Homo sapiens: one gene and its partners. The protein of the gene in region 4 purifies or fractionates together with the protein of the main gene of each other region. This does not show direct contact. Each region holds a gene or a part of one and is shown on either strand. Other genes may lie near its edges.

Region 1 (4,733 bases), on a different chromosome or scaffold from region 4:
GTTTTTCTGTGTAGCCAAGCAAGGTGGATCCCAGCTAATTCTTGATGTGCGTGCTCTAAAATTACACCAGGATGGTCGGGCGCGGTGGCTCACGCCTGTAATCCTAGCACTTTGGGAGGCTGAGGCAGGCGGATCACTTGAAGTCAATAGTTTGACACCAGCCTGGCCAACATAGTGAAACCCGTCTCTACTGCAAATACAAAAATTAGCTGGGTTTGGTGGCAGGTGCCTGTAGTCCCAGCTACTCGGGAGGCTGAGGCACAAGAATTGCTTAAACCCGAAAGGCAGAGATTTCGGTGAGCTGAGATCGCACCACCACACTCCTACCTGGGTGACAGATGCAGACCCTGTCTCAAAAAAATAATAAAATAAAAAATAAAATAGTAAAATAAAATTATTTCAGGAATGATGAAAAGAAGCTTCTTAGAGCTTAGACTTTATCTCATTTTCTTGACTCATTTTTCAATTTCTCTGTTCTCTAATACAGAGTTTTTTTAAAAAAACCAATTATTATTTATTATTTATTTTTTTTGAGACAGAGTCTCACTCTGTCACCCAGAATGGAGTGCAATGGCACAATCTCGGCTCACTGCAACCTCTGCCTTCCAGGTTCAAGCAATTCTCCTGTCTCAACCTCCTAAGTAGCTGGAATACTGGTGCCTGCCACCATGCCCGGCTCATTTTTGTATTATTAATAGAGACGGGGTTTCGCCATGTTGGCCAGGCTGGTCTCGAACTCCTGACCTCAGGTGATCCACCCACCTTGGCCTCCCAAATTGCTGGGATTACAGGAGTGAGCCACTGTGCCTGGCCAAAATAAATTATTATTTATGGAAAAAGTTACTTTTGGTTTAGACAATTTCAAACTGAAATATGTAAACCCCAGGTGGTATGTGATGGGTGAGTGAGAGGAGTTAAAACCACAAGGTAACCAGGTGTAGTAACCAGGCATACAGATTTTACTCCTTTTTTTTTTTTTGGCAGTGGGGTGGGGAGTGTGGGTGATTATATTCTGCTATTAAACCAAACATGTATTACTGTATACATACAATCTTCTATTCATACAAAATTTGAGATGAATTCTGAGCTTTGGGTTATCTGCCTTCACCTTTCCCTGATATCCCATTTCAGGATGTCCAGAGGTTCTAGGTTGGAAAAGTATGAAAAGCACTGCTCAGGTATCAGAAAGTTTGAGGGCCAAGAAAATGGATGTACTGTTACCTGAGCCTGGAAAAGAAGGCAATGCAGGCACATGTATTTGCTGTGCATAACTTACATGCAACACTGATAGAGAGGGGCAAGAATGCTTCTTTCATCCAGCGAGGGGTTCCCAAAGCTGAAAATTAAATTAAAACTTAGTGAATTAGGTGGAAGTACTGTTCTCTTCTTAGCATCAAAGCAATAGCAAATTCTATATGAAACTCAAATGTGATCCTAGATAATTTCACGCTCCAGCAGCTCAAATCACTTAAATTGAAAACAAGCGGGGCATGACCAATTAGACACAGGATCCCTAACAGCCTGTACTAAAATATCTGACAACAAATATACTCATTTACAAGGGACATTTTCCTGCCAAGATATCACAAGGTGCTGGAGCATAACTATGGTAAACACAGTGCGGAGTTCACAGACCAAAGGGAGAACTTGAAGACCCCTAAGCCTGCAAAGGTTTTAAGGACCAGAGAGAAATAAAAGCCATTTATATTAGATTCCCACAAACAAGCAGATGACCATTACTTGTAAAAAGAAGTCACACTTATTCTACTCCCAAATTAGCAATATCCTATTCCCTACAAGTAAGTATAAGTACAGATTCAAATTGGAAAAACTGTTCACACAGGCTGAGGAAACTGATTCACAGCAGATGCAAAAATTACCTTAGCAGCAATTCAGAGTTAGAAAAGGAGAACTGATTCTGGAAAACTGTCAACCTTTCAATCTTTCCAGAGGCTCACCTTAATAGCTAGAGTCTGGTAGCCCTTAGTACAGTGTAGGTCCTCCAGTAATTCAAGGCAAAGGCAACTGCTATGGTCTGAATGTTTGTGTCCCCCTCAAATTCGTAATCCCTGGTACAACAGTCCAACAGTATTAAGAAGTAGGGCCTTTGGGAGATGATTAAGTTACGAGGGAAGAGCCCACATGAACGGGATTAGTGCCCTTATAAATGAGGCCAGAGGGAGCGTGTTTACCTCTTCTGCCATATGAGGACACATAGAAGGCACCATCTGAGAAACAGGCCCTCACCAGACACTGAATCTGCTGGCACCTTCATCTTAGAGTTCCCAGCCTCCAAAACTGTAAGCAATACATTTCTGATGCTTATGAATTACCCAGTCTAAGGGATTTTGTTATAGCGGCCCGAGTGGACAAAGCAACTATTTTGATATACACCAAATATCAAGTATCATGTGTATCACAGGATGAGTGCTATGTGCTTTGCTGTAATGGGGTAGAGGGAGAGGCAGTGTTTGCTGGTTTTTCATTTTCTGTGGCCATCACCATCTTTCACAAAGCATGAGGCGCCTGGTGTTCAGTATAAGATGGTGGCATCATTAGCAAATGCTGCCCAAGCACTCTTTGCTGAGGAGCCATGTCTTAGCTTATTTCCAACAACCAATGTTAACAGTAGTGACCTAGGGCCTGGAAAATTCTGTACTCCAAGGAAGCGTTCTATTTAGTAAATATTTATTAAATGCAACTAAAAGTGTGGCACTACACCTGTAATCCCAGCACTTTGAGAGGTCGAGGCAAGCAGAGCACTTGAGGTCAGGAGTTCAAGACCAGCCTGGCCAAAATGGCGAAACCCTGTCTCTACTAAAAATACAAAATTAGCGAGTGCCTGTAGTCCCAGCTACTCAGGAGGCTGAGGGTGGAGAATCGCTTGAACCCAGGAGACAGAAGTTGCAGTGAGCTGAGATTGTGCCACTGCACTCCAGCCTGGGCAACAGAGCAAAACTCCGTCTCAAAAAAACTTAAAAAAAAAAAGTGTGGCACTAAACCGGCCACCACAGAGAATGCAGAATATGAAATGGAAATACAATGTGCTCTCCAAATAGCTCAGGCCTAAAAAAATAAGGACATTCTATTTATTCAAAATGAATAAACATTTTTTATTCAAGATAAAAGTAACTTGTTGTTATATATAAAATCCACACTAGGCAACAGCTCTTCTTCCCATGACAGCAAAAGTATGGACCTAGACAAACACAAAAATAGCAAAACATCCTACCAAATAAATTAATTTTTTAATTGCAGGAACCTTTGGATAGAATAAATTTAACGACAAATTCCACACTCTATTACATCTGTATTTCTCAAGCTTCTAAACACCAAATATCATAGCCAAGAAAGAACGATGTAGGTAGTAACAAATGAATAACCCTGGTTTTCCAGTTGTCTGAGAAGAGGCTCATAGAGTCTTAGACTCCTTGGAAGAACCACTTTTCCATTTTTTGAAGTACTGAGATCCCTGAGAGTGGAGAGAAGGACAGGTACCAATAGCAAAGACTCCAAGTGGAAAAAAGAAGGATGTTGCCTATCAATTGCATTCTGGATATTCTCCAGGATGCTCTGGAAAATGCCCTTCTTTCATATACAGAAACCCCTCCCTGACAAGGACAGTCCTGCTGGTCTCACCTTTTGGCATTATCAAGAAGGATGAGCATACTAGCGCCTTCATCATCTTGAAAGCTCTCATAGTGATGGCGGTCAGCATTGCCAATCAGGTAATCAAAGACAGCTGTGTCAATGATGTCCAAGAGGCGCGGGCCAGAGTCATAAGGGGACGTTTTCTTCACAGCATCACAGTAGCTCTCATCATACTCCCACCTGGAGACAAGCAGCATCACAGCACTGAGTGACAACACTGTACCTGGCACTGTTACACACAAAGAGAAGACAGAGTTCCTACCTACCGGTTTGCCCCTGACTCCACAGTTCTTTTCACTCTTGGACAGAACTGCTGGCTCCTTTACAGAGTTGGCACCTGGCTAGGCACAGGGGAGAATTAAGTAATGGCTCATAGGAGCATTTACCTGGCCAATTTGCCTTCTCGGTAAGTCCTGCCCCATGGGTGACGGTGCTTCTGCAGAGGCCACACATCTGGAAGCCAAAGTGTGACAGATCCCTCCATTATGTCTCCATCAGCACAAGCTGGTTCTGTTTCTCGGCAGTAATAGCACTTCCCATAAAAACAAGTATTGTTTCCTAAAGGACAGAAAGGAGCCAAATACACTTAAGGAAATAACGAAGACTCCAAGTTCTCTCCCAAATAATGCAGAACAGAGTAGCTAAGTAAATAAGCATGGTGAAAACAAAGACCCTGAGTTTACTATATTTCAAACATTTATTTTCCTGTATAGGTAATAAAAAAGCACACGGTGTAAAAAAAATTTAAAAAGTACAAAAGGATATACACCCAAAAGTAAGTTGCCCTTGCCTCCTGTGTCCTTTCTACCCAGTCTCACTCTCTGGTGTCAACTACCATCACCAGTATCCTTCAAATTCACTTTTTGTTTGTTTTGTTTTTGTTGTTGTTGTTGTTTTGAGACAGGGTCTGGCTTTGTCATCCAAGCTGGAGTGCAGTGGCGTGATCTCAGCTCACTGCAACCTCTGCCTCTGGGGCTCAAGCCATCCTTCCATCTCAGCCTCCTGAGTAGCTGGAACTATAGGTATATGCCTCCATGCCCAGCTAATTTTTGTATTTTCCTGGTAGAGATGGGGTTTCGCCA
Region 2 (4,733 bases), on a different chromosome or scaffold from region 4:
CGAAGTGGCCACCACGGAGCTGGCCTTCCCGGCAGTCACCCTCTGCAACACTAATGCTGTGCGGCTGTCCCAGCTCAGCTACCCTGACTTGCTTTATTTGGCCCCCATGCTGGGACTGGATGAAAGTGATGACCCCGGGGTGCCCCTCGCTCCACCGGGCCCTGAGGCCTTCTCTGGGGAGCCCTTTAACCTGCACCGCTTCTACAATCGCTCCTGCCACCGGCTGGAGGACATGCTGCTCTATTGCTCCTACCAAGGGGGACCCTGCGGCCCTCACAACTTCTCAGTGGTGAGTGGAGCCCCATGCCTGCCACAGTACCCCAAGAGTGTCTGCCATGGCTGTCCCTGACTGTCACCTCCTGGGGTTGGGGCTGGGGCTGGGGCTGGGGCTGATGACTGTGCTGCCCCCTACCTCATCTGGCTGACACAGGCCAGAGCTCACCCAGGAGTCCGGGGCCTGGAGCTGGGCTGGTATTCCCAGGTCCACACCAGTGCTGCTTTTCCTGTTAGAATCTTGAAACACGTCTGTCTTAGTTGGTATTTTGCTGCTGCCTCCCAACATGTCCTCCAGCTTTACCTGCCCTTCTCAAGACTTCCTCATGGTCCAGCAGGGCCCGGGACCTTGCTCCATCTGTGAGGTCAACCTTTGATCTGTTGGTGGACGCCAGTGCCTGGCCAGTTGTTCACTATTTTGACTAGCACCCATGGACTGAAGCTGGGGTGGGTGCTGCCTGGTCTCTGGTGGTACAAGAGAAGGGAGTGAAAGGGTGACAGTAGAGGGGTGGGGATATCCCCCAACCCCACCCCACCATGGCCCTTGTCAGCATCTCCTGCAGCAGGGACTTCATTGCATCTTCACTTGGTCTTCCTGTGCCCTCCTATGGACGCCCCACCCCCACCAGCTCTGTGTGTGTGTGTGTGTGTGTGTGTGTGTGTGTGTGTGTGTGTGTGTCTGAGGGTAAATAACAGGTCTCTAAATCATATCCCTCTCCCCAGCTTTAAGTGGCCAGGGACCCTCTTCCTAGGGGAAGCTCTCACTGGGAACTGTCCTTCTGCTTGGCCCCCCACCCAGGGGTCCAGGGCTTTCCCTGCTGGGGGGCCACCTGGTACCCCACTGTCTCTCCTAAGTTCATCTTCCAGGTCTGTCTGGCCTGACTGCTCTCCTGCCCCACCAGCTCCCAGATGCCAGGCCTTCCCTGCCCCACACACCCATCCCTCAGTCCTCCACCCCCTCCCTAGCGTAGGGGCAGGGGGTGTCATCATACCCGTGCATCATGGGATGACTGCAGGCATACAGGGGCCTGGGGGTTTGGGCCACTGGGCCTCAGGCCAGGAGCCATAGGAATGTGTCTACCTCTGGGCCCGAGAGTAGAGCAGACAGTTCTCACCCAGGCCCACCAGGTGGCAGCAGCAATCCACTGTACAGCAGCCCTGTCCTCTGAACCGGCGCAAGACAGGGCTGCTAGCCGGCCTCAGACACCTCTAATCCCATACAACTCCGGATGGAGTGTAGGCATGGGCATATGTCCAGCCTGGAGCCTGTGGCTGGGTGCCGCAAGACCTGGTCATGGGGCTGGGGACTAGGAGCCCTTGGAGTTCTCTCTTTGCCTCATCTCTGGACCTCACCCACAAAGTGGGGAGAGCAGTATGTCTCCTCTTCTGGAGGTCAATGGAGGAGGCTGTTCTAGGAAGGGGGAAGGGGGCAAAGACCGTATTCCCTAGTAACCTACTGCCATTGCTGCTCCAGTCTGGCCTGAAACTCTTTTGTCTCTCCCCTGCTCTGGGCTGTATTGACTCACCTTATGACCTGTTTTGTGGACTTTGTCACCATCCAGCAGTAGTAAAAGCACAGCCACCCCAACTTGGGGACATTCAAGGAGGCTGTGGGGAAAAGGCCAAGGATAACTGGTTTACTTTTCTCTTTGCAGCTTTTTAATCAGCACTGTGACCAGGGCTGCACTGGGGCATGGAGTGGGGAGAAGACTGGGGAGACAGCCCCTGGGGCTGAGATATCTTCTGAGGCCCTCCTAGTTTTGCAAAAGCATTAACGCACACACCATGCCCTGGGGGCTCAGTCCCAAGTGCTGGAAGAAGAGGTGCTGGTGCTTGGTTGAGTGTGGTCCTTGGCATGGCAACTGGGTCTACTTTCAGGTTCTGCTGATAATGGGATAATGGAATAATGATGGACCCAAGGGGCTAGGGGCTGAATGAAACCAAAAAACTGAGTTTGGCTGGGCACGGTGGCTCATGCCTGTAATCCCAACACTTTGGGAGGCTGAGGCAGGTGGATCACCTGAGGTCAGGAGTTTGAGACCAGCCTGGCCAACAGGGTGAAACCCCATCTCTACTAAAAATACAAAAATTAGCCGGGTGTGATGTTGTGCACTTGTAATCCCAGCTACTTGGGAGGCTGAGGCAGGAGAATCACTTGAGCCCAGGAGGCGGAAGTTGCAGTGAGCTGAGATCGCACCACTGCACTCCAGCCTGGGCAACAGAGCAAGACTCCATCCCAAAAAAAAAAAACTGAGTTTGGGTCTTGGGGAAAGCAGAATTTCAGATTCCCAGAGTGAAATCTAGGAGAAGAGAAGATATGTCTTGGAGGGCCTCAGGAGCTTGGGCCTGAGGAAAGTGTCCCAAGGAGGGGCCGTGTTAGGATCCTGGTGATGAAAATGTATATGTCAGGGTCCTGGCAGGAAAAAGACAGCTACTTGATGATTTAATTGAAGACTTTAACAAAGGGACTGCTGACAGAGCTGGGGGCAGGGTTAAGGAAACCAATAAGGGGGACTGAGGCAGTGAGCAGTACTAGGAAATCGTTATCACTTCTAGGCTGAAGAAGCACAAAAGAAGACAGTGCTCTGTAGGGAGCCCTGGCAGGATCTGTAATCATGGAGGGCCTAAGGCACTACTAGAGCTACAGAGGGGCGAGGGCTGGGGAAGGATTCATACCCCAATCTTTCCTCCTGCCTTCTGAGCCATTACCAATACCTCCCAACTGTCAACCCCAACTAGAAGCCCATGCAGGTGGCAAAGGAGCTCAGGCGATGCACCCTACCAGGAACAGTTTTCCAGGGCACACAGAGGGCAAGAAAGGGTGAGAAACAGGTGGGAGAGGGGAGCAAATGGAGAATGGGCTGCACGGGAGGAACCATTCCCAAAGGGTGTTGAGATTCCAACAGCTGGGGTGGCTAGGAACAGCCCTTGGTGAGTAGAGGGTGCTGGCAGGACTCTTAGGCTCTCCACTCTGCCCTCGCCAGGTCTTCACACGCTATGGAAAGTGCTACACGTTCAACTCGGGCCGAGATGGGCGGCCGCGGCTGAAGACCATGAAGGGTGGGACGGGCAATGGGCTGGAAATCATGCTGGACATCCAGCAGGACGAGTACCTGCCTGTGTGGGGGGAGACTGGTACGTCACCCACTTCAGGGGCCCCTCTGCATGGCTCTAGGCCCCAGCCTCTGCCAGGGGATTCCTGGGCTTCACTGTGAGACCTGGGCAGGGCCCGGGCTTTCCCCTCTCCCTCCAGCATCTCACCATCTCTATCACTGACTCTACCTGACTTCCACACTCACATCTCTCTGGCTCCCACTTCCTGGTTCAGTTACTCTCCAAGGTAACCAGCCATCCTCTTCCATCAACGCCGCCGCCACTCTATAAATAACTCCCTCTCTTCTCGGGCTGCCTGCCTGTCTGGTCTCGGGGGGCCTTGGGGCAGAGAGAGATGGGGGAAAAGGGAAAAAGGGAGTGGGAGAAATGGAGAGCATCTGAAACAGTGACACTCTGGGAGAAAGTATTTGAAACATCAAGATGCAGAGCAGAAGCCAGGTAAGAAAAGAAGTGTGTAGGATACAGGGGTCATCGGAGCAGCTCAGAGCTGGTAAACCCAGAAGGAGGCTAGGGGGTGGGCTAGGACCCTATAGACTTCCCCCACCCCAGCCCCAGTGCACCCTATGCTTATTTCCAGGAGAGGTAGGATGCCCCCAGGTCTGAGGGGTGTTAGGGAGTCAGGAGCCCTCCCAACCCACACACTCCTCATTCCCCTAGACGAGACGTCCTTCGAAGCAGGCATCAAAGTGCAGATCCATAGTCAGGATGAACCTCCTTTCATCGACCAGCTGGGCTTTGGCGTGGCCCCAGGCTTCCAGACCTTTGTGGCCTGCCAGGAGCAGCGGGTGAGAGGGCCATGGGAGGCTGGTCCTGGGGTGGGGTATTGAGGGGTCCAGATGGAGTGGTGGGCAATCAGTAATGGGAAGGACAGGTGAGCAAGGACCTGGGTGGTAATCTGGCTAGTCAGAAGCATGAGTGATCGAATGAACAAGAATGCTCTGTAAACTCTGAGACCTTTGGAGGCTGCAGAGGGAGAGGGGAGCAGAACTCCAGAGATCTGCATCTTGTCAGAGGAGTCCATCAAGCTGATTTGGGGAGAAGTCCCCGCACTCCCCCAGCTCCCCGGCTCTCCCAGCAGCTCATCTACCTGCCCCCACCCTGGGGCACCTGCAAAGCTGTTACCATGGACTCGGATTTGGATTTCTTCGACTCCTACAGCATCACTGCCTGCCGCATCGACTGTGAGACGCGCTACCTGGTGGAGAACTGCAACTGCCGCATGGTGCACATGCCAGGTCAGGCCTGGGGCTCCGAGCATACTCCTGGGGTCCCTGGGCCTTTGCTGCCCTTCACTAGCTCCCCATCCATATCAATCTCCCAACCCCAGTTCCAGCCCACCCCATCCC
Region 3 (3,646 bases), on a different chromosome or scaffold from region 4:
TCACTGCCTTCTTGAGACGCCTCTCAAAGCTCTTAAATGGCTCCTGTGCTATGTGTGGTGTTGGCAGTCTAATTTGCTTCTGTTAAATGTTGTAGAACCTTTTTCACTAGGAAATAAGATTCATTTCTTTCGGCAGTAGATGTAGATTCATCTTTTAACGTTTCTTCAAATTTGTTTCTGTCAGGCTTTGTGTTATTTTAAATGGTTTTTTAAAATTTTCTTCTATGTTTTCAATTACCTAAAGACATAGGATAATAGTTTTTTTTAAGTTAGAATTTTACCTCATAAAATTTTTTGAGGTTTGATGTATGTCTCTGTCTTATCAATAATGAGGCTTAAAAAATACTGGATTTGAATGGCTGCCGTTTTTTCAAAGCAATATGAATTTGATGAGTTTGTTTTATGCCATTAGGTGGCGCCAGAGGTCAGAACATGTCTATTTTGAATTGGATCGTTACAAATGAGCATATTTGATGCGGAAATTTCTGGGAGAAAAAAAATTGAGGAAATAAAGTTAAAAAATTGACATTCATTGAGCCAAAAGAGATGTGGAGAAACATTTTTCACCTTTCTGTTTGGCCTGATTAACATTTAAATTCTTGCCAAAATTAAGGTAACTTTTAAAAAACACCTTTTATAGGTGGATCCAGCAGTCTGGCAACGCCCACAGTTACCACAACACAGAAAACTGATCGTGCTATAAAATGGACGCTAAACTATGAAAACAGTGTGACATTGTTCTCTGTTCTTCCAGAGCCAGTAACATGCTTGCTCGTGCTTTCTACTTCTAGCTGATCATTCTTTTCCCAACATATATTTACAAATTTACCAAATTTTACCTAGAATTTTAGGACCAAATGGTTCTCACTCTTTATGCTGCAAAGACCTGGATGATGTTTGGTAACTATAGAAAAATAGAAATTACACTCAGGATCACTGTTACTGCTATTGCCACTGATGATTCCTGCAAAAATATAATCGAAGTTTTCCATCAAATGTATAATATGCTATTAATACACATTAGATGATAACAGTTGTTCCATGAATGATTCTATGAAGCTATGCATCTTAGACCTCTTGAGCTGTGAATTAGCACTATTTTCTATAGTTACTTATTCTCTGGATCATTTTATAATTTCCATATTAATTTCAAATATGCTCGTGTTATTCTTCAGTGATTTCCACAATTGTGCATTTTATTCTTTGGTTTAAGTACTGAAGCATATAATGAAAGTAATTGCTAAGTAGCAGCTTAAAAATTCAATTATCCGATTGTATTTAACATCTTTAAGAGCATGATCATAAAGAGCTATTTTTGACACCCCCCCCCCACTTTTTTAACATTTAGAGTTAGTAAGGGTTTTATATCTCTTCTGTCCATATTGTTTTCAAAGGAATGAGGTGTTTAGGTGGCTGGAAAAGCATTTGTAGGAAGTTAGATTTGAATATAGACAAGGTGGGTTATTCACGTTGAGAATGTTATTTGAAGAATGCCTGTGAAGCCAGGTGTGGGTTCTACTCAGTGCCATAGATAGACTGAGTCTTCTCTCGTAGGTTACCATTACATAGTAATTTTGATTCTGAATTTCACATTAAATTATTTGAGTTTATACAGACCTAAATTTTAAAATCTGTACATATATTATTTTGATGTATTAAGATGAATATTGCTGATTTAAATTTTATTTATGCACATACTTAAAGGACAGAAATGTCTGGGAAAGTAATTGTTAAATAATGATATGTAACTTTTTAACTTTTTAAATAAATAACAAGATTTTTAATGTGTGTCTCCCTCAGGGTTGTTTAAAGTTTTTTTTCTCCCTCAAGTATAAATAGTGGTAACTATATGTTTTGTATCTTCTAGCACCAACTGCTGTAAAGCAATGCTGCAAATAATGCTTGAATACAAGTGGCTAAGCCAACAACAGAATAAATACTTTTATAGTAGTTTTATAATCCTGAAATTCGAAAGCTTTCCCAATTGCACTTGCATCTAAACAAAACTGTTGCAGTTTTTACTCTATTTATTTTGTTCCCCATGTTTATGAAAGTCCTGCACAGTTTCAAAGGCATGGTAAATAATATATCAATGTTTATGTAGTCTGTTACAGAAACAGCTATAGATAACATTATCCAGTGAAGAGCAAAATTCAAGCTTTAGAAAATATTCATGCATGCAATTTTGACATATCTAAAAATAGGTTTTTGTATATTTATGGTGGGAGGTGGTTGGGAACTTTTAACAAAATGGGGTGTTAATTTTTGTACAGTCTGTGGGCATTTACACATTTTTAATGTATTAAAATTTGGTAATTATGTGTACATTAAATTAATAAAAGTTACTTCTAGTTATGATTTGTGAATTCCCTAAGACCTTGGATTTTTTTAAGTAACTTTATATCAGAAATGATACTGCATCTTTATATTTTTAAAATTGTATTGCTGCTCAAGAATGGTACCCTCTTGTCAAAAAGGCATACATTCATAATTGTACATTCAGCATTGTAAATAATCTTATGAAACCTTTTTTGATTGAAGCTATTCAAAATAAAAATTTTAATGAATGAAATAACACTTTTTTTCTGTGTCTTTATTCATTTGTTTGCTTTTTAGTGACATGAATACTGCCCTTTGTGGATTTATTTTCCTGCCTAATAATACTTCCCCATTTCCTTCTTTTTTTTTTTTAAAAAAAACTGGATTTTGAAGGAAATAAGAACAACATTCTGCATATCATGCCATGTGTGTGAGCATCCTGGGGAAACCCCACAGTCGGATGCAGTGTAGAGCCAAATGTTAAATGCGAGGAGGTCTGAGGGCAATGGTGAAATGAAATAGAAGAGTAGGGACTTATAATCTATTAATAGTTGGGAGAATCAAACCAAAAGCTAATACCATGGAGAGAGAAAATGGTTGTAAAAATCCCAGAGAAGACAGGACCTTTGTGTGTGGGTGGGAGTTGTTTCCATGGAGCTCAGCTCCGGGAGACACGGAGCCCCTGCTAGGGAATATGTGGCTGGCTGTGGTGTGATGAATTCGGGGGGTGAGGGCCTGCCTGCCTTTAGCTCAAGTTCTTAACAGTCGCTATGGTTTGTGCGGCATGTGTGATCCTGTCCCCACAGCCTGCTGGTGTGGGCACAGTTCTGCATGTCTCTCCTTCCGCTGTATCACTGCCAAGGGACAGGGAGTCCTAGGGGCTTGAGTGAGACTGTCCGTGGTCCAAGTTGGGGTGTGGTTGCTCCCTGCTGTGCCCGGCCCACTGAGTCTCCCTCAGAGGAAAAAGGCTTATCTCACCCAGGCACAGACCTGCTTTTGAATAGCCAAGCCCCTTAAGCCAGGTAACTGTTTTACAGCAGACTTCTGACCTGGTAATGGATACAGAATCTTAAGACTTGGAAGCACTGGAGCTGTCAACTTCCTTGCTCCAAATACTTCTCATTACCTCATCAACTTGCTCAGTGGATGGACTAAGAGTGTTCCCCCACTCTGCAACTGCCATACCTACTTTTCCCTTCCTGGACAATCAAAGTGTCTTCCTAAGGGACAAAATGTAGAGGCCATTCTGACTGGAGGTTTTCCTGGGGAAATAGGCTAAAGAAGGGCCACAGGAATTTGAGCCATCGGCATCTTACTCTGTTTCACA
Region 4 (4,733 bases):
GACTGATGGGTCTTGACTGGGGATAAAGAGTCAAGACCCATCAGTGTGCTGTATTCAGGAAACCCATCTCACGTGCAGAGACACACATAGGCTCAAAATAAAAGGATGGAAGAAGATCTACCAAGCAAATGGAAAACAAAAAAAGGCAGGGGTTGCAATCCTAGTCTCTGATAAAACAGACTTTAAACCAACAAAGATCAAAAGAGACAAAGAAGGCCGTTACATAACGGTAAAGGGATCAATTCAACAAGAAGAGCTAACTATCCTAAATATAAATGCACCCAATACAGGAGCACCCAGATTCATAAAGCAAGTCCTGAGTGACCTACAAAGAGACTTGGACTCCCAAACAATAATAATGGGAGACTTTAACACCCCACTGTCAACATTAGACAGATCAACGAGACAGAAAGTTAACAAGGATACACAGGAATTGAACTCAGCTCTGCACCAAGCGGACCTAATACACATCTAAAGAACTCTCCACCCCAAATCAACAGAATATACATTTTTTTCAGCACCACACCACACCTATTCCAAAATTGACCACATAGTTGGAAGTAAAGCTCTCCTCAGCAAATGCAAAAGAACAGAAATTATAACAAACTGTCTCTCAGACCACAGTGCAATCAAACTAGAACTCAGGATTAAGAAACTTACTCAAAACTGCACAACTGCATGGAAACTGAACAACCTGCTCCTGAATGACTACTGGGTACATAACGAAATGAAGGCAGAAAAAAAGATGTTCTTTGAAACCAACGAGAACAAAGACACAACATACCAGAATCTCTGGGACACATTCAAAGCAGTGTGTAGAGGGAAATTTATAGCACTAAATGCCCACAAGAGAAAGCAGGAAAGATTCAAAATTGACACCCTAACATCACAATTAAAAGAACTAGAAAAGCAAGAGCAAACACATTCAAAAGCTAGCAGAAGGCAAGAAATAACTAAAATCAGAGCAGAACTGAAGGAAATAGAGACACAAAAAACCCTTCAAAAAATTAATGAATCCAGGAGCTGGTTATTTGAAAGGATCAACAAAATTGATAGACCACTAGCAAGACTAATAAAGAAGAAAAGAGAGAAAAATCAAATAGACACAAAAAAAATGATAAAGGGGATATCACCACCGATCCCACAGAAATAGAAACTACCATCAGAGAATACTACAAACACCTCTACGCAAATAAACTAGAAAATCTAGAAGAAATGGATAAATTCCTCGACACATACACCCTCCGAAGACTAAACCAGGAAGAAGTTGAATCTCTGAATAGACCAATAACAGGCTCTGAAATTGTGGGAATAATCAATAGCTTACCAACCAAAAAGAGTCCAGGACCAGATGGATTCACAGCCGAATTCTACCAGAGGTACAAGGAGGAACTGGTACCATTCCTTCTGAAACTATTCCAATCAATAGAAAAAGAGGGAATCCTCCCTAACTCATTTTATGAGGCCAGCATCATCCTGATACCAAAGCCGGGCAGAGACACAGCCAAAAAAGAGAATTTTAGACCAATATCCTTGATGAACATTGATGCAAAAATCCTCAATAAAATACTAGCAAACCGAATCCAGCAGCACATCAAAACCTTACTCACCATGATCAAGTGGACTTCATCCCTGGGATGCAAGGCTGGTTCAATATACGCAAATCAATAAATGTAATCCAGCATATAAACAGAACCAAAGACAAAAACCACATGATTATCTTAATAGATGCAGAAAAGGCCTTTGACAAAATTCAACAACCCTTCATGCTAAAAATTCTCAATAAATTAGGTATTGATGGGACGTATCTCAAAATAATAAGAGCTATCTATGACAAGCCCACAGCCAATATCATACTGAATGGGCAAAAACTGGAGGCATTCCCTTTGAAAACGGGCACAAGACAGGGATGCCCTCTCTCACCACCCCTATTCAACATAGTGTTGGAAGTTCTGGCCAGGGTAATTAGGCAGGAGAAGGAGATAAAGGGTATTCAATTAGGAAAAGAGGAAGTCAAATTGTCCCTGTTTGCAGATGACATGGTTGTATATCTAGAAAACCCCATTGTCTCAGCCAAAAATCTCCTTAAGCTGATAAGCAACTTCAGCAAAGTCTCAGGATACAAAATCAATGTACAAAAATCACAAGCATTCTTATACACCAATAACAGACAAACAGAGAGCCAAATCATGAGTGAACTCCCATGCACAATTGCTTCAAAGATAATAAAATACTTAGGAATCCAACTTACAAGGGACGTGAAGGACCTCTTCAAGGAGAACTACAAACCACTGCTCAATGAAATAAAAGAGGATACAAACAAATGGAAGAACATTCCATGCTCATGGGTAGGAAGAATCAATATCGTGAAAATGGCCATACTGCCCAAGGTAATTTATAGATTCAATGCCATCCCCATCAAGCTACCAATGACTTTCTTCACAGAATTGGAAAAAACTACTTTAAAGTTCATATGGAACCAAAAAAGAACCCACATCGTCAAGTCAATCCTAAGCCAAAAGAACAAAGCTGGAGGCATCACACTACCTGACTTCAAACTATACTACAAGGCTACAGTTACCAAAACAGAGATATAGATCAATGGAACAGAACAGAGCCCTCAGAAATAACGCTGCATATCTACAACTATCTGATCTTTGACAAACCTGAGAAAAACAAGCAATGGGGAAAGGATTCCCTATTTAATAAATGGTGTTGGGAAAACTGGCTAGCCATATGTAGAAAGCTGAAACTGGATCCCTTCCTTACACCTTATACAAAAATTAATTCAAGATGGAAACTTAAACGTTAGACCTAAAACCATAAAAACCCTAGAAGAAAACCTAGGCATTACCATTCAGGACATAGGCATGGGCAAGGACTTCATGTCTAAAACACCAAAAGCATTGGCAACAAAAGCCAAAATTGACAAATGGGATCTAATTAAACTAAAGAGCTTCTGCACAGCAAAAGAAACTACCATCAGAGTGAACAGGCAACCTACAAAATGGGAGAATATTTTCGCAACCTACTCATCTGACAAAGGGCTAATATCCAGAATCTACAATGAACTCAAACAAATTTACAAGAAAAAACAAACAACCCCATCAACAAGTGGGTGAAGGACATGAACAGACACTTCTCAAAAGAAACATTTATGCAGCCAAAAGACACATGAAAAAATGCTCAGCATCACTGGCCATCAGAGAAATGCAAATCAAAACCACAATGAGATACCATCTCACACCAGTTAGAATGGCAATCATTAAAAAGTCAGGAAACAACAGGTGCTGGAGAGGATGTGGAGAAATAGGAACACTTTTACACTGTTGGTGGGACTGTAAACTAGTTCAACCATTGTGGAAGTCAGTGTGGTGATTCCTCAGGGATCTAGAACTAGAAATATCATTTGATCCAGCCATCCCATTACTGGGTATATACCCAAAGGACTATAAATCATGCTGCTATAAAGACACATGCACATGTATGTTTATTGCGGCACTATTCACAATAGCAAAGACTTGGAACCAACCCAAATGTCCAACAATGATAGACTGGATTAAGAAAATGTGGCATATATACACCATGGAATACTATGCAGCCATAAAAAATGATGAGTTCATGTCCTTTGCAGGGACATGGATGAAATTGGAAATCATCATTCTCAGTAAACTATCACAAGGACAAAAAACCAAACACCACATGTTCTCACTCATAGATGGGAATTGAACAATGAGAACACATGGACACAGGAAGGGGAACATCACACTCTGGGGACTGTTGTGGGGTGGGGGTTGGGGGGAGGGAGAGCATTAGGAGATATACCTAATGCTAAAAGACGAGTTAATGGGTGCAGCACACCAGCATGGCACATGTATACATATGTAACTAACCTGCACATTGTGCACATGTACCCTAAAACTTAAAGTATAATAATAATAAAATAAAATAAAATAAAGAAATATCCAGGAAGATCAACCCACAGAACAAAGAAAGCTAATAAAGTACATTTTCTTGCAAAAAAAAAAAATTTTATTTTTCAATGTAATACATTAACAACAAAAAGGAAAAAAGTAACAAAAGGTCAAAGGAGAAAGCTAAGAGTTGACATAACCAAGAAGAAAGACCTGAATTCAAAAATGGCAGAAGACAGTAATAATATCACAAGGCTCCTGCTAATCAGGTGCTTTACTTATTATAATGATGACATATTTTCATGTGTTAAATGACATGAGTTTCAGGACAGTCAACAATGCAGGCGCTAGAACCAGGGCACCTGGGTTCAAAATTCTATCTCTGCCACATAACAGCTACATGACATTTTCAAGTTACTTCCTAGTGCTTCTGTTAAAAACGGGGATACTGATTATATAGATCAGAGGTAAACAACTATATTACCGTCAGGTTGCATTTGTTTAAGTCCTCTGTACTCACCAAGGGACTGCGTCCATAACTAAATATTAGCATTAGTATTAAAACAGCAAACAAACAGAGACAGTACTATTACCTACCTCAGGGTGTTATGAAGATTAAATAATACACGTAAAACCCTAAGGGTACTTCTTTGCCTATAGTAAATGCTCAATTTATGTCAACTATATTTTGCTTGTATCCATGATATAGGGTATTAACATTTATTTAAAATTGTATGCAAAAATTACCAGGCATGAACAACAAATTATCTTAGTTTTATTTCTGTGCTTTGGAGATGTATTCTAAACCTACCTATGCAT
Region 5 (4,733 bases), on a different chromosome or scaffold from region 4:
CTGAAAACAAGAGTAGCAGCAAGGAATCCCATTGCACTCTGACAGCAGTACGATCCAACATGTCATGTTGGGGATAAAGCACAGAATCAAGGCATATCACACCTGGCACTTGCACCTCACAAATGAAGAGAGGGGAAGTGACCTGTTCACAGTCACACACTGGGCAGTGACAGAGGCGGGACAAGAAGCCAGTTTCCCCCTCTGGCTAGTGCCTGGAGGGGAGGCTCACCATTCTGGACAGTGTTACATACGATGGTTTCCTCTTCCTTCTTGCCCTTGTTGGGAGTTACGCCATGCTTCATCCAGAAGGACAGGGTGAAGTGGTCACTGAGGCTGTCCTGGGGCCCAGAGCCCAGCCCACTGGGGCCACCCAGGGGCACCTGCACAGCCTGGGTGCCATTGAACCAGTAGATCAGGCTGCTGTCCTGGCTGTAGTGCACCGAGAGTCCTGCTGTCCAGTTGGCATTGGGGCCAGGCATGGGCAACAGATCCACCTCCCCAGTGGCAGCACCTGTGGGAGCCCCAGGAGGCACAAGTGTCAGAGCCAAGAAGCAGCAGATGGTGAAAAGGGCAGGAGGCAGGGAAAGAGGGACTGATGGGAAAAGATTTCCTACAGCACGTCTTGCCACCTTTTATGGCCTTTCAAAGACAAGAGAGGGATGAACTCACTTCTAAGAGTATCTCTCCAGTTAACCCATTCTCCAACTCTTCATCTCGCCCTACCATTGTTCCACCATGCATCCGGTGACTGTCTGGTGCGATGACTATGCATCTTTGCCAAAGACATATGTACCTGCCTTTTGGGCCGCAAATGCTAATCGTGTCACAACCTCTATGGATAAACACCTGTGGATGGCCAGTGGTGATGTAAAGCAGAGTCTTGGAAAAGTTTGGACAGAGGTTGGATGGGAAGGGATAGGCCTGAGGCAGTGTTGGGGGCACACCTACCACAGAGTTTCCGCAGCGCCCGCTCTGAGTAGTTGTCACGGTCACAGCCCTTGGCCACATGGCTGGTCTGCAGCTCTATGGTGGCCTGAATGTTCCAGAGTGGTTCATCACAGGTCTCCAGGCGGATACCAGGGAACAAAGCCAAGCTCCCAGCACCTGGTGCATATTCGATCCTTTTGTTCCAGCCTGCATGGGTGAGACAGAGAGGGTGATGGGGAGAGAGAAGGGTAAAGCAGCCTCCCCTCTCCATGCTCCTCTTGCCATGTCCATGGACAGTTTGGGGCTCCTGGCAGGATGGCCCGGCTAGAGTAGATAGCTGCAAGCCTGCCCCAATATCATCCAAGCCCTAGCCTGGCCCCCATGATTGTCAGAAAGGACAGAAAGAGAGACCAAGAAAAAAGATGATTCACAAGATGGGGCACAGCGCTGAGCTCTCACCTTGCCAGCTGGGTTTACAGGTGGGCTTCACCTGAATCTCCACCTCAGCATCATCTGCTGCCCGCTTCTTCCCACAGTCATAAGCTGTCACTGTAAACTTATAGAGCCTCTCACCACTGTACTGCAGCTTCTCTGTGTTCTCAATGTTCCCTGGGGTGGGGTCAGGAGGACAGAGCATTAGAGCATTGGAGAAAGCCCAGGGCAGGGAGGGGAGGATGTCTGAGATCATCGGGCAGCAGGCAGGTTAGGCAGCAGGACGCTGGGAAAAAAGGCATCTGGGAGGAGAAGGCTCCATTTGGGAAGAAGGGTGAGGTGAGGGTCTGAGGGGCAAAAGTGGAGAATGCAACCCTGGGTTGTCCTGAGGGAGGTGGGTGCTCAAGGGGAACTGGGTGGCCAGGGAAGCCAGGGGTGGACTCACCGTCATTGTCAATGAGGAAAGGGGTGTTGGGTGTGAGAATCTCATAGTAGCAGATCTGGCTGTACTGGGGGGAGCAGTCACCGTCAATGGCTTCCACCCGCAGGATGCGATCGTACAGCTTCCCCTCTGTCACAGCCGCACGATACAGCCGTTCCACAAACACTGGGGCAAACTCGTTCACATCGTTGACCCGCACATGCACAGTGGCCCTGCATATGCCAGAGAGAAGGAGGGATGAAGACACGTCAGCCAGCCTCGACATTATACATTGAGATACAGCCTTGATACAGCACACCGAGGTACAGCCTCGATACGGTACATCAAGATACAGCCTTGATACGGCACATGGAGGGACAGGTTCGATACCGTACACCAAGATACAGCCTCAATACTGTACACCAACAAACAGCCTCAATATGGGCACAACGAGATACAGCCTTATACTGTACACCAAGGTACAGCCTCGACACGGTACACCCATATGCCAGAAAGGAGCAAGCAGGAATCCCGACGGAGAGCCAGAACAGGAGGGAGCCTGCCCATCTATCCCTGAGACTGAGGCAGTCAGCACGCTCCTCCCCACCCCACAGGGCACCAAGCTGCATCAAAGTCATGCCAGGGAGAGGACAACACCAGAGGGAGGGCCCAAAGAAAGGAGGACTGATGTAGGGGATGAGGAACAAGGCCCAGGGGTGCTCAGGAGCTGATTTTGATGACTTCTGTGCAAAATGCTATGGGTCAGGGTGCCAAGAGGAGGGGTAAGGCATAAAATCCAGCAGGGCCTTCCTTCACAACAGTCAGATCCGGGGGGATAAGCAAGGAAGATGCAGAGTAAAAGCCAAATTAAAACCAGCCATAAGAAGGGAAATGGCATGTGTACAAAGGTCACAAGTCATCTGACATGTCTGCACAGTACGTGTGGGCAGTGCTGCCTCCCGCACATGCGGCCCCTCCCTAGTCATGCACCGGGGCAAGCAGAGCTGGGTCGAGGCCCTTCATGCTGAGCCCTGCCCCAGGCCAAGACCCAGGCTCCCAGGCCCCAGAGGCAAGGGTCCTATCTTCAAATGGGAAACTGAGTCACAAAGAGCATTTTATCTCTAGTGCCTCTTAGTGGCTCAGGAATCCTGACTGAAGATCTTTCTCTTATTCTCAAATAAGAAGTTAGCTGGCAACAAGCGTAGGTGTCCCAGACCCGAGCCTCTTTCTTGCTACAACCATCGCCTGCCCACCCTCACCTAGAGCTATATGTGTATGATAGGGATCGTGTGTGTGGTATACACTGCAAATAGACTGGAGGGGGCAGTTGAAAGGGAACTGGATGCATGCTGAGTGTGTTCATCCTCTTCCTTCTTGCTCTCCTCCTCATCATTATGCCCATGTACTGTGCCCTTCAACGTGTATCAGGCACTGTGGTGCATGCTTTCAACACAAACCATCTCCTTGAATCTTCACAGCAGCCTTATGAAGTAGGTGTCATCACAATCTCCATTCTACAGATAAGGAAAAGCAAGTCCAGAAAGGCTAGGCTGCCCAAGGTCATGAGAGGCAAAGCCAAGATTAGATCCACTGAACTCTACTATACGTTTCTGTCACCTTGCCTGAAAGTCCCTAAATCCTAGGAACAGCAGGGGATGGGGCTCCCTAAGTCCTAGGAACAGCAGCGGGTGGGGGTGGATATTCGATGACCGCACGGACAGAGGATGGTGGGCTTGGGAGCAGGGAGGAGGACCCTGCAACACATGGGGCAGGAGACAAGGACTTCCTCACTTGTGGGACTTCTTGGTGTTGGCCCCGTCGGGGCCCTCGCCACAGTCATAGGCCTGGATGGTGAAGGTGTGTTCCTTCTGGGCCTCGCAGTCCACAGGCTCCTTGGCCCGGATCAGCCCCTCTCCTGTCGCCTTGTCAAGGATCACAGCCTCAAAGGGCACCCCAGACCCATGGAGCCGGAAGCCGCAGATCTCACCTGGCAAAGGGGAGAAGGGGAGGAGTGAGGCTGCTGTGTCTCCTTCCCCACCCTCAGTCTCCCCACCTGGGGTCCAGCTCCACCTCTCCTCCCAAAGCCCTGTCCCTTCTCCTGTAGGCACAAAAGCATTAATGATCAAACACGCAACTCTAAGCCCAGCTTCCCTGAGCAGCAACCTCCCAGAGCCTCCAGACCTGAGATCTGACAAAATCATGATGTGTTTAACCCTTGCCTGGCCATGTCCTTTTCTGGCATCCTTGACTCAATCTCCATTCTTCAGTGGAGACCATTCCCCTCCTTGAGCCCACTTTTATCTTCCCTTACTTTCTCATCACTCCCAGGACCTTCCCTCCCTCCCTTGCTCTTGGCCCTCCCACCCACTTTTCTCTGTCCTACCCTGCCTTGCCATCCCCCAATCCCAATTACCTGCATAGCGCAGCGGGGCATCCTTGTCCAAGGCAAAGAGTGGTGGATTCAGTAGGACCGTGTTGTCATTCTCCATGACGATGCCCTGGTACTCTGCCTCAATCCATGGCTTGTGCTTGTTGGCTGGCCCCACCCCAGGGAGAGGAGAGGAAGCACCTGTGAGCAGGGCCTCTACTCCCACAACAACCCTTGTTGACCCAGACAACTCACACCCCAGCACCATCACCTTTTCCACCCCCTATAGGAGCACCTTACAGGAGGCGGGTGGTTGAGGACAAGAAATCAGCTACTAAAGGAGTCAGAGGGTCTGCGGGAGGTCATAGCCTTCTCCTATAGCAGGGTAGACAGTTCCCATGGAAACAACCTGCCCTGGGGGTGAAGAGGAGGGGATCACTATCTCCATGGGAACCATGGTCAGGAAGTGGAGAATGTTCTTTAGCGATTTCACGTGCTAGAGAATGGAGACAGGGAACTTCAGGGAGCAGTGGTGGGCTGTGAGAAGGCCCTGGGAAAGGGAAGGGATAGATTAAGGGCAGAATT
Region 6 (4,733 bases), on a different chromosome or scaffold from region 4:
GGGTAGAGAGCTGAACAGGAAGAGAGAGGAAAGAGGGGAGGGGAGGGAGAAAGAGGGGAGGGGAAGGGAAAAGGGGGGAGGGGAGGGGGGAGGAGGGGAGGGGAAGGACTGGAGGGAGAGGAGGGGAGGGGAAAGAGGGGGAGGAGAAGGGGAGGAAGGGAGAGGGAGGAGGGGAGGGGGAGGAGGAGAGGGGAGGTGGGATTGGGGAGGAGGTAAGGGGAAGGAGGAAGGAATTGAAGGGAGGGGGAATAGGTGAAGGGAAGGGAGAGGAGGTGGAGGGAGGAAAGGGGAGGGGGGAAGGTGAGGGGAGGGGGGATGGTGAGGGTGGGGGGAAGGGGAGGGGGAAGGAAAAGGGGAAAGGGAAGGGGAGGGGAAAGGGGAGAGGAGAGGGACAGGAGGAGGGGGAGGAGAAAGGGGAGGGTAGGGGGAGGAGGAGGGGGAAGGGGAGGGGAGGGGAAGGGGAGTGGAGGTGGGTGGGGAGGGGAGGGGGAAGGTAAGGGGAGGGGGTGTCTTCCAAGAATGCAGCCCCCAGGAGTGTGTGGGGCAGGCAGGCTAAGGAGGGAAGACACGGAGTAGGAGAAACCAAAAACAGCAACCTCAACAGAAACCATGAAAGAATGGTCTGGAACCGAATCTGAGAAAAGGCAAGCATGCAGATTTCCACAGACTTTCGAGGTGCCCCAGCCTGCGGGCACCTGAGGGTGGGCAGACTGGGCAGGAGGGACTGCCTCGCCGGCAAGCGGCGCTGGCTATGCTGCCTGGGGCCGGCCAGGGTGCGGGGCAGAGGCAGGGTGCAGGGCGCAGGCAGGGGCCGGGCCACTTACACTTGACCTGCAGGATCTGGTCACTGAGATTGGCTTGGAGGTAGAAGGTGCTGTAGGGTGGGAGCACCAGCCCCAGGCTGAGGGGGGAGAAGCTCGGGTCACGGCTGGGGGGAGGCGGGCCACACTGGCACCCCCTCCCCATGGCCTTGGAGCTGGGCAGAGGCCCCAGCTGCAGCATCCCCTCCTCCCACCACCAGGGACCCCTCTCCCCGCTTAGCTGCAGGAGGTTCATGGTCTAGGGGCCGGCACCCTGGAGGCTCTCCACTTCTCAAACTCTCCTGGGGGCCACCGGGCAACCAGCCCCAAAGCAAATCCCCACACCATCTCCCCTCCCAGCAGCCTCTCACAACAGCCCCCTGCCCAGCCAACCTCCCTCTGACCCACAAGGGGCAGACGCTGCCGTGAGCTGGCTGCAATGCCAGTGTTGCCGTGGGAGTGGGGTCACCAGCCCCCAGATACTCAAAGCCAGCAGAAAGCAGGGCTGGCGCAGATATGGTGGGGGCAGGGGGTGGCAGTTGTGGGCTGGCATGGGCTGTGAGGATGCCCCGGCATTTCAGGATGGACTAGCTGTGTGGGGCAGGCAGAGGTCAGCCTGCACTGACCCAGCCTGACACACAAGGGACCTCCTCTGCCCTGAGACTGTGAGGCAGGCTGACAGCATGCCAAGGGCAGTATCCTGGGATGAGGAGACTTTGGATGACTGTGCTGTGCTCTCAGACCTGCTGCTTGTTCCTTAAAAGCCAGGGAGTCTCTTGGCAGACTAAGCATCTCAGGGTGAGTAGTGAGCAGCCCTGGCCACTGGTGCCCCACTGGGATGGTGGTCACAGTGGGAGAGGGAGGGGACAGCTGGGCTCAGATTCTGGGGCCACCCCACCCTCTCTGCCCGCCCAGCCCTGGCCTCACTTACCTGTAGTTAGTGCTCCTTATAGGCACCCAGGTGTAGTTCCGTGTCACCTCATCTATGTACCTCTGGGAGAGGAGGCTGGGTCAGGTACTTGGGCTAGCAGGCAGGGGGCGCTGGGGTAGAAGGGTGCCCACCCTGACTCCCTGGCCCCCAGCCCTGCCTCCTTACCTCATCCAGGGACTTGACCAACGTTCTGATCTGCTTGTGGCCCTTGTTGCCATCAATCATGCTCCGACGGATCTGGAAGGGCCAGAGATGTGAGGGGCAGGGCCCCTACACTCCTCTGCTCTGTCCCCCACCCCTGTTCTCCTCCTCTCCTTACCTCTTCCTTGTTCTCATCCTCTAGCTCCGCATCCAGGAAGTCCAGAGTCACAGGCTCCCGGAAGTTGGTGGTCTGTTGGAGGCAGGGTGGGAAGTCAGAAGTCCCCATTGTGGAAGGTTTGCCCACCCTCCAGGCCACCCGTCTGGCTCACCTGGGGCTTGAGATTGGGGTGCAGCAACACGTAGCCGTTCAGGTCAATGGCAAACACATAGCCGTTGGCTCCAAGCTGGAGGCACAGATTGGGGGCTCAGGGTCTGGAGGGATGGGCTGGGGTTCCCTGGGCTCCGGAGTTCTTCCCTATTTGGCCTCCCACCGCACCGAGAGATTCTGTTTGCCTGCCTTGGGCTAAGGGCCCCCCCATGCCACGTGGCCCTAAGCCTGTCTCTCCAGCCAGGCCCGCAGGCGGGTTGCCCCTTGTGCACCAGCCCTTGCCAAGGCTAACCGGCGTGTGGGCTGCTGCTCTGCAGTCCTCATCCTCTCCCCCTGGTTCTCATGAGCTGTCAGTTGTCCTGACCTCTCTGCCACCACCGGCCCCACAGGTCTGCTGCTTCTGTACCCCTGTGGCCCTCCTCTAGCCACTACTGCCCCTGATTTGTGCCTCCTCCTTGTCCCCACGTCAAGAGAGAGCAGCGGGACGAGTGGACCCTTCGGAATCCTACCTGGGGCTTCCCTTCCAGGTGGAAGGGAAGTAGGAGTAAGTGGGACCTGGACCTAGCCCTTACCTCCCCCAGTCAGTTTCTTACTGTACCTGGAGGCCAACTGCCACAGCCCCTGCCCACTCAGGGCCAAGCAGAGGCTTCAGGGGGGCTCAGGCTTAATGATGCTGTTGTACATACCACACCTCTCCCCCTTCCACAGGCCAAGATGCAGACTCCCTGACCGCAGGCGCTGGGCCAGCCACAATGCCATCTTGCCCCTACCCTGGTTTATGATTGTTTTTCACCTTTGGGCCCTTGGCCAGAGAATTCCCTCTGCCTCCAATGTACGCCATCCCCTCCTTTCCTTTCTGCCTGGGACACTCCTGCCTATGTGCATGGGCCAGGTCTGGCCTGCTGCCCATTACTATGTGGCCATGAGCTAAGAATGGTTTTATGTTTTTAAATGGCTGGAAAAAACATCAAAGGAAGAATTCTATTTTGTGACATGTGAAAATTATCTGAAATTCAAATATCAGTATCCACAAATAAAATTAAATTGGAACATAGCCATGCCCATTGTTTATGTTTTGTTTGTGGCTGCTTTCACAATACAACAGTGCAACCGAGTAAGAGATGGGTATGTAGGTCTGCAAAGCCTAAAATATTCAGTCTGGCCCTTTACAGAAAGTTTGCCAACCCAAGGTCACCTTGTTCTAGACCCAAGGTCACCTCCTGGGGAAGCCTTCCCCGACCCCTGAACTCAGAGGTCTCCATGGAGGCGCTGTAATACCCATCAGTCTTCTCTGCTGAGCCTGCCTGTGTCCACATGGGAGGCAGGGTACGCGGATGGGCAGGGGGATGCTCACCGTGTAGTTGGGGGTCAGCCTCTTGATGTCATTCAGAGCCACGTCAATGCCCATCACGCCCAGGATCAGCTGGTTCTGGGAGCAGAAGCATGGGGGGCTCCTCAGTGAGCTCAATTCCATGGGGAACCACCCTCCACAAGGCCTCAAGCTGCTCTCACAGGCAGTGTGCAGGCCTGCCCTGCCCCTCTTCCACCCTCAGACCTGCTGTGGGCATGCCCATTCCTCCCCAGGCACACCCATAGCCCCAACCCTCCCCTTTCCTCACCTTCTTTTCCCCAGGGCCATCCTGTGTCAGGTTGAAAACAGGGAGGGTCCCTGTTACCACCAACCCCAGTCCCTGAAGGGAGAGGAAGATGATGGAGTCACCTGTGGCCAGCACTGACCCCACCCTGAGTGTTCAGAGCAGGGACTGAGGTGCAGGCCACCTCTTTCTCCTGTGCTTGGTTTACCCCATAAGGGGGCCCTCCAGGGTCTTGACCCTGTGGGCACATCTCCGGGGGAAGGGTGCCAGCCCCACCCCTTCCTTGTCCAGAGGCCTTACCAGTGCATCCTCATACACGTTGGTCCACTGCACCTGCTTGGCCTCCTTGCCTGCCAGCACCATGGGCCTGCCCAACACATCTAGATATTCCTGGGGAGGGGGCAGTGGTGGGGGTAATGAGTGCCTTTCCCAGGCACTGCCTGTTCTGTCTCGCCAGGCATTGGGATTGTGCCCCAGCCACTGTGAGGGGGCGCCCTTGGCCCACAGCAGCCCATGGCACACAGCGTCCCTGCAGGGAAGCCAGGGGCTGGGAGGAGGGGCCTCCCCAAGTCTCACCTGTGTGTTGATGCGGATGGCTCCGATGGAAGGGATCTCAAAATAGTAGCCTGTGAAGGAAGGAGAGGCAGAGGTGGGCCTGGCTGGCACTGCAGGATCCATGTGCAGAGGGCCCTGCCCCTGGGGTGTGTCTGCAGCCCTGCCTCGCCTCTTGGGCTCCTCTCTTTTTGGGGTCCTCTCCCTCTAGTGCTCCCGGCCTCTGCCCTGCCAAGGGCGGTGCTATGGAGAGGGAGTGAGTGCAGCAGTATCAGGAAGCAGAGCAGGGGGCAGAGATGGGGAGGGAGGAGCCTGAGGTCTGAGGTCCCTCATTTTAGGGTGCAATGCCATTCAAAGTCCACCCGGCAGCCAGGCCCAAGTGCACA
Region 7 (3,500 bases), on a different chromosome or scaffold from region 4:
ATATTCCATTATAGTTATTTAAAAAGTTAAACGTCAATTGTGTCCTGATTATAGGTTTCTTTTGTTAAACATATTGCTTTCAGCAAAAAGAAAGAAAAGTGGTTTAACAGATGACAAAGCCTCTGGCTACTTATTTTAATGGCCTGACCAATGAATAATATGCTATTAAATACTGAGTCAAAGGCCTGATTCAGTAAAAAACTTGGAGATAAGTCGATGAACTTATGATTGAAAGGTTTAGGAAAATTATACTATCTGTGAAAAGGTAGTAATGAATTGTGAGTAGGGTAATTATACTGCATTTGTCTGACAGAATGCTTGGTTAAACAAAGGTGTCCTATTCATAGCAGAAAATAAACACTGTCTCAACAAACAGATGAAATTTAAAGCCCATGAAATTTCTAGCAGCAGCTACGAAAACTCTTAGATCCATAATAATTACAATATGTTAGATGACTAGTTTCAACAGTGTGTTTTCCATTTCCTAAAGAAAATACTTCAAAAGCTTATCACAAAGAAAACAATGTTACATACAGCTGATGTCGTTAGCATAGCATCTTACCAGATTCACATTCCAATTTAGTTCGATTTAAGTCAATTCCATCATCCACAAACTGACAAATTGAAAACAGCCTGCAACCTCTCTGACATGCGTACAACTCCTCTTCCTAGGGAGTTCAAGAACAGGAAGGGTTACCAAAAAATAGTATTTTTTTTTCCTCAGGGGAAAACAGGTTAGGAAGAAAGCAGTTAGTAAAGTTTATTACAAATCGTCCAGTAAGTTTCATAACTGAAAGAAAAAAATGATAGGAGCCAGTTGATACTCAAGACCTTTGCCATATAGAGGTTTTAGTTCCTTATTTTAAAAGTGATACGAAGAAAAAAGCCTAGTAGGTAAAACCACCACCCTTTTTCCATTTTCTTTGGTTACAATCTGTGGGGGGGAAAAATTAAAAATAAAACTAATAGTGACAGGCCAGGTGCAGTGGCTCACACCTGTAATCCCAGGGCTTTGGGAAGCTGAGGTGGGAGGACTGCTTGAGGCCAACAGTTTGAGGCCAGCCTGGACTATATAGCGAGACCCCATCTGTACCAAAACAAACACACACACAAAAATAACTGGGTATGGTAGTGCACACTTGTTGTCCTAGTACTCAGTAGGCTGAGGTGTGAGGATTGTTTGAGCCCAGGAGTTTGAGGGTACAGTGAGCTATAATCACACCACTGTACTCCAGCTTGGGGTACAAAGTGAGACCCTGTTGCTTAAAAAACAACAACAACAAAAAACACAACGGTGATATAACTAGAACTTTAACAGCGATAGGAGTAAGCAAGTACCCTAGGACCAATGGCATACTTCTGCCACATCCCTGTTTATATGAATCACCAGGCTTATCAGGAAAAGTATCAGACTAGCTTCACATGGCAAATGGTGACACAAGGGCCTGATAAAGTAAGGTATACATCTATAAAAATGTTTATATGAAGGGATTTTTTAAAACTGGGCTTACATTAAATGAAAACACAGGAGCAACAGTGTGGTGTATGGGAAAGGACACTGCAATCAGCCAGACCTAGATCAAACCTTTTGGGTGAGTGCATAAGTTATTTTACCTGTCTAAGAATCTCAGCTTTCTCATCAAAAAAGGAGAGAACAGCCATTATCTCCAAATTCCTCAATAATTTGGAAGCTATTTCCAGTATAGTGCCTGGGATGTAGAAGGTGCTTAATAAATGGTAATAGTGTTAATAGATTTTTAAAATAGAAAACAATTACAGGCATCAATGTATACGTGTGAAAGCTTAAGACAGGATGGACATCTGGTTCTTCATTACTGTAAAATATTAACTGCTTAATAAGACTAATGTCTTCAGCTGTTTTTCTTTGATAAAATAAAAGTATTTAAAAAAAGCTATTGCATATGGGGGAGCCCCCTCGACTTACTATGTGATCCACTGTGTACAAACTGGCAGACACCTAATAAGGAAACAGCATGTGCATATACCAGTTAGCAACCAATGAAATACAAGCTATGTATTTCTTTCCAGCAAAAGGATTAGTAAAATTTACGCAGCAGCAACAATCCATCAAGAAGAGATGCCTGCAGTCTAATATTAAATATACTTTATCATACAACTTTGAAGGTAGCACACTTTTGGACCTCAGTTCCAACTGCATTTACTGTTAAGATGAAATTGAAAGAATTTTAACAATTGAGATAGATTTCATATCTGAGTAGCTGTTGCAGGCTTTGTAAAACAGTTAAAGAATTATTTTATGTCTCTGGAGCACCACATATTTCCTTATATTGCACAAAGGAAGCATAAGCTCATTAGTATGAGCTATACCACATGCCATTTCATTCTCAGATATGCTTTCCTTTAATAAGTCATCCAGTACCAATTTCGGAAAACCATATGGCATGGTGAAAAGAGCCGAGGTTTCAGGAATCGGCCCTGGTTTGAAGCTCAGACTTGCCACTTATTCTGCACAACCTTTGACAAGTTACTTAATCTAATTCCTCAGTTGTAAAATAAGGACAATACTCTTACATCAATCCTAACTACTATTCATTTATTTTCTACTGCCTGTATAATTGCAGAGTGTCAATCTTCACTATTAGGAGAATTATATATTTATATCTACAATAGCATTACTACTATGTAGTACTATCTAATAGACAGACATATTTAATGAGCATCCACAATGTGCCAGGCACTGTATTAAGACTTAACAAATTATGAAACATCTGGTATGGAGCAGGCACTCAACTGGTAGCTATCAAGAATCATATCTTTATTCTAAGTATTTCATGTTATATATACAAAAATAATGATTTCAAGTAAATATTTCATGCCCTATGTATCCCAAATGACTGGCAAGTTTATATAACATGTATCTCCTCTGATTTAGGACACAATAAATAGTGCTTCCACCATATGAAATACCAGCTAAATTCATAATTAGAAGGTCCCTCAATGGTACTATTTAGGCCAGGCACCGTGGCTCATGCATGTAATCCCGACACTTTGGGAGGTCAAGACATAAGGACCCATTCAGCCCAGGAGTTTGAGACCAGCCTAGGCAACACAGCAAGACCCTGTTTCAATTATTTTAAATTAAAAAATAAATAAATAGAAGTTAAGTGATCAGCAAGGACAAACAGTAATCAAGGAGCTGGGAATAAAACCAGGTCTGTATGGTTCTAGAGACCACACTCCATTAAAAAATGACCAGGCTGGCTCTAATTAGCTTTTTTATTAACATGATTTATGTCTCTTGTTTTTTCGACCGAGATAAATTATGCAATTGCACTTCTGTAGATAAAACATAGAATAATTTAAAAATAACTATTTACAAACAGGTATTCTACTTTCTTGCAACAAATAATTAGTTCTCAAAAAGTGTCTGAGATTTCTTTTTTTTTTTTCTTTTTTTGAGATGCAGTCTTGCTCTGTCCCCCAGGCTGGAGTGCAGTGGCACAATCTTGGCTCACTGC

Evidence for each region.
Region 1: the proteins of B3GAT2 (region 4) and FAM20B purify together in Homo sapiens (affinity purification with mass spectrometry; one large-scale study listed by BioGRID and IntAct). This does not show direct contact.
Region 2: the proteins of B3GAT2 (region 4) and ASIC1 purify together in Homo sapiens (affinity purification with mass spectrometry; one large-scale study listed by BioGRID and IntAct). This does not show direct contact.
Region 3: the proteins of B3GAT2 (region 4) and ATP13A3 purify together in Homo sapiens (affinity purification with mass spectrometry; one large-scale study listed by BioGRID and IntAct). This does not show direct contact.
Region 5: the proteins of B3GAT2 (region 4) and CLSTN3 purify together in Homo sapiens (affinity purification with mass spectrometry; one large-scale study listed by BioGRID and IntAct). This does not show direct contact.
Region 6: the proteins of B3GAT2 (region 4) and CACNA2D2 purify together in Homo sapiens (affinity purification with mass spectrometry; one large-scale study listed by BioGRID and IntAct). This does not show direct contact.
Region 7: the proteins of B3GAT2 (region 4) and TMEM59 purify together in Homo sapiens (affinity purification with mass spectrometry; one large-scale study listed by BioGRID and IntAct). This does not show direct contact.

The regions. Positions count from the first base shown.
Region 1 is NC_000001.11:179,063,403-179,068,135, reverse strand, and holds part of FAM20B (glycosaminoglycan xylosylkinase), read right to left. Parts: intron 4,210-4,733; coding exon 4,038-4,209; intron 3,832-4,037; coding exon 3,640-3,831; intron 1,337-3,639; coding exon 1,277-1,336; intron 1-1,276. UniProt on the Homo sapiens protein: Responsible for the 2-O-phosphorylation of xylose in the glycosaminoglycan-protein linkage region of proteoglycans thereby regulating the amount of mature GAG chains.
Region 2 is NC_000012.12:50,073,956-50,078,688, forward strand, and holds part of ASIC1 (acid-sensing ion channel 1), read left to right. Parts: coding exon of another isoform or gene 1-289; intron 290-3,012; coding exon of another isoform or gene 3,013-3,105; intron 3,106-3,257; coding exon 3,258-3,408; intron 3,409-4,044; coding exon 4,045-4,172; intron 4,173-4,462; coding exon of another isoform or gene 4,463-4,465; coding exon 4,466-4,622; intron 4,623-4,733. UniProt on the Homo sapiens protein: Forms voltage-independent, pH-gated trimeric sodium channels that act as postsynaptic excitatory receptors in the nervous system, playing a crucial role in regulating synaptic plasticity, learning, and memory.
Region 3 is NC_000003.12:194,401,603-194,405,248, reverse strand, and holds the end of ATP13A3 (polyamine-transporting ATPase 13A3), read left to right. Parts: 3' UTR 1-2,572; downstream 2,573-3,646. UniProt on the Homo sapiens protein: ATP-driven pump involved in endocytosis-dependent polyamine transport. Uses ATP as an energy source to transfer polyamine precursor putrescine from the endosomal compartment to the cytosol.
Region 4 is NC_000006.12:70,946,271-70,951,003, forward strand, and holds part of B3GAT2 (galactosylgalactosylxylosylprotein 3-beta-glucuronosyltransferase 2 precursor), read right to left. Parts: intron 1-4,733. UniProt on the Homo sapiens protein: Involved in the biosynthesis of L2/HNK-1 carbohydrate epitope on both glycolipids and glycoproteins.
Region 5 is NC_000012.12:7,132,607-7,137,339, reverse strand, and holds part of CLSTN3 (calsyntenin-3 precursor), read right to left. Parts: intron 4,317-4,733; coding exon 4,194-4,316; intron 3,768-4,193; coding exon 3,572-3,767; intron 2,014-3,571; coding exon 1,805-2,013; intron 1,537-1,804; coding exon 1,387-1,536; intron 1,135-1,386; coding exon 949-1,134; intron 512-948; coding exon 230-511; intron 1-229. UniProt on the Homo sapiens protein: Postsynaptic adhesion molecule that binds to presynaptic neurexins to mediate both excitatory and inhibitory synapse formation.
Region 6 is NC_000003.12:50,373,913-50,378,645, forward strand, and holds part of CACNA2D2 (voltage-dependent calcium channel subunit alpha-2/delta-2 isoform b precursor), read right to left. Parts: intron 4,422-4,733; coding exon 4,372-4,421; intron 4,186-4,371; coding exon 4,096-4,185; intron 3,892-4,095; coding exon 3,820-3,891; intron 3,630-3,819; coding exon 3,555-3,629; intron 2,277-3,554; coding exon 2,202-2,276; intron 2,123-2,201; coding exon 2,051-2,122; intron 1,969-2,050; coding exon 1,897-1,968; intron 1,794-1,896; coding exon 1,732-1,793; intron 902-1,731; coding exon 825-901; intron 1-824. UniProt on the Homo sapiens protein: The alpha-2/delta subunit of voltage-dependent calcium channels regulates calcium current density and activation/inactivation kinetics of the calcium channel.
Region 7 is NC_000001.11:54,046,705-54,050,204, forward strand, and holds part of TMEM59 (transmembrane protein 59 isoform 2 precursor), read right to left. Parts: intron 669-3,500; coding exon 563-668; intron 1-562.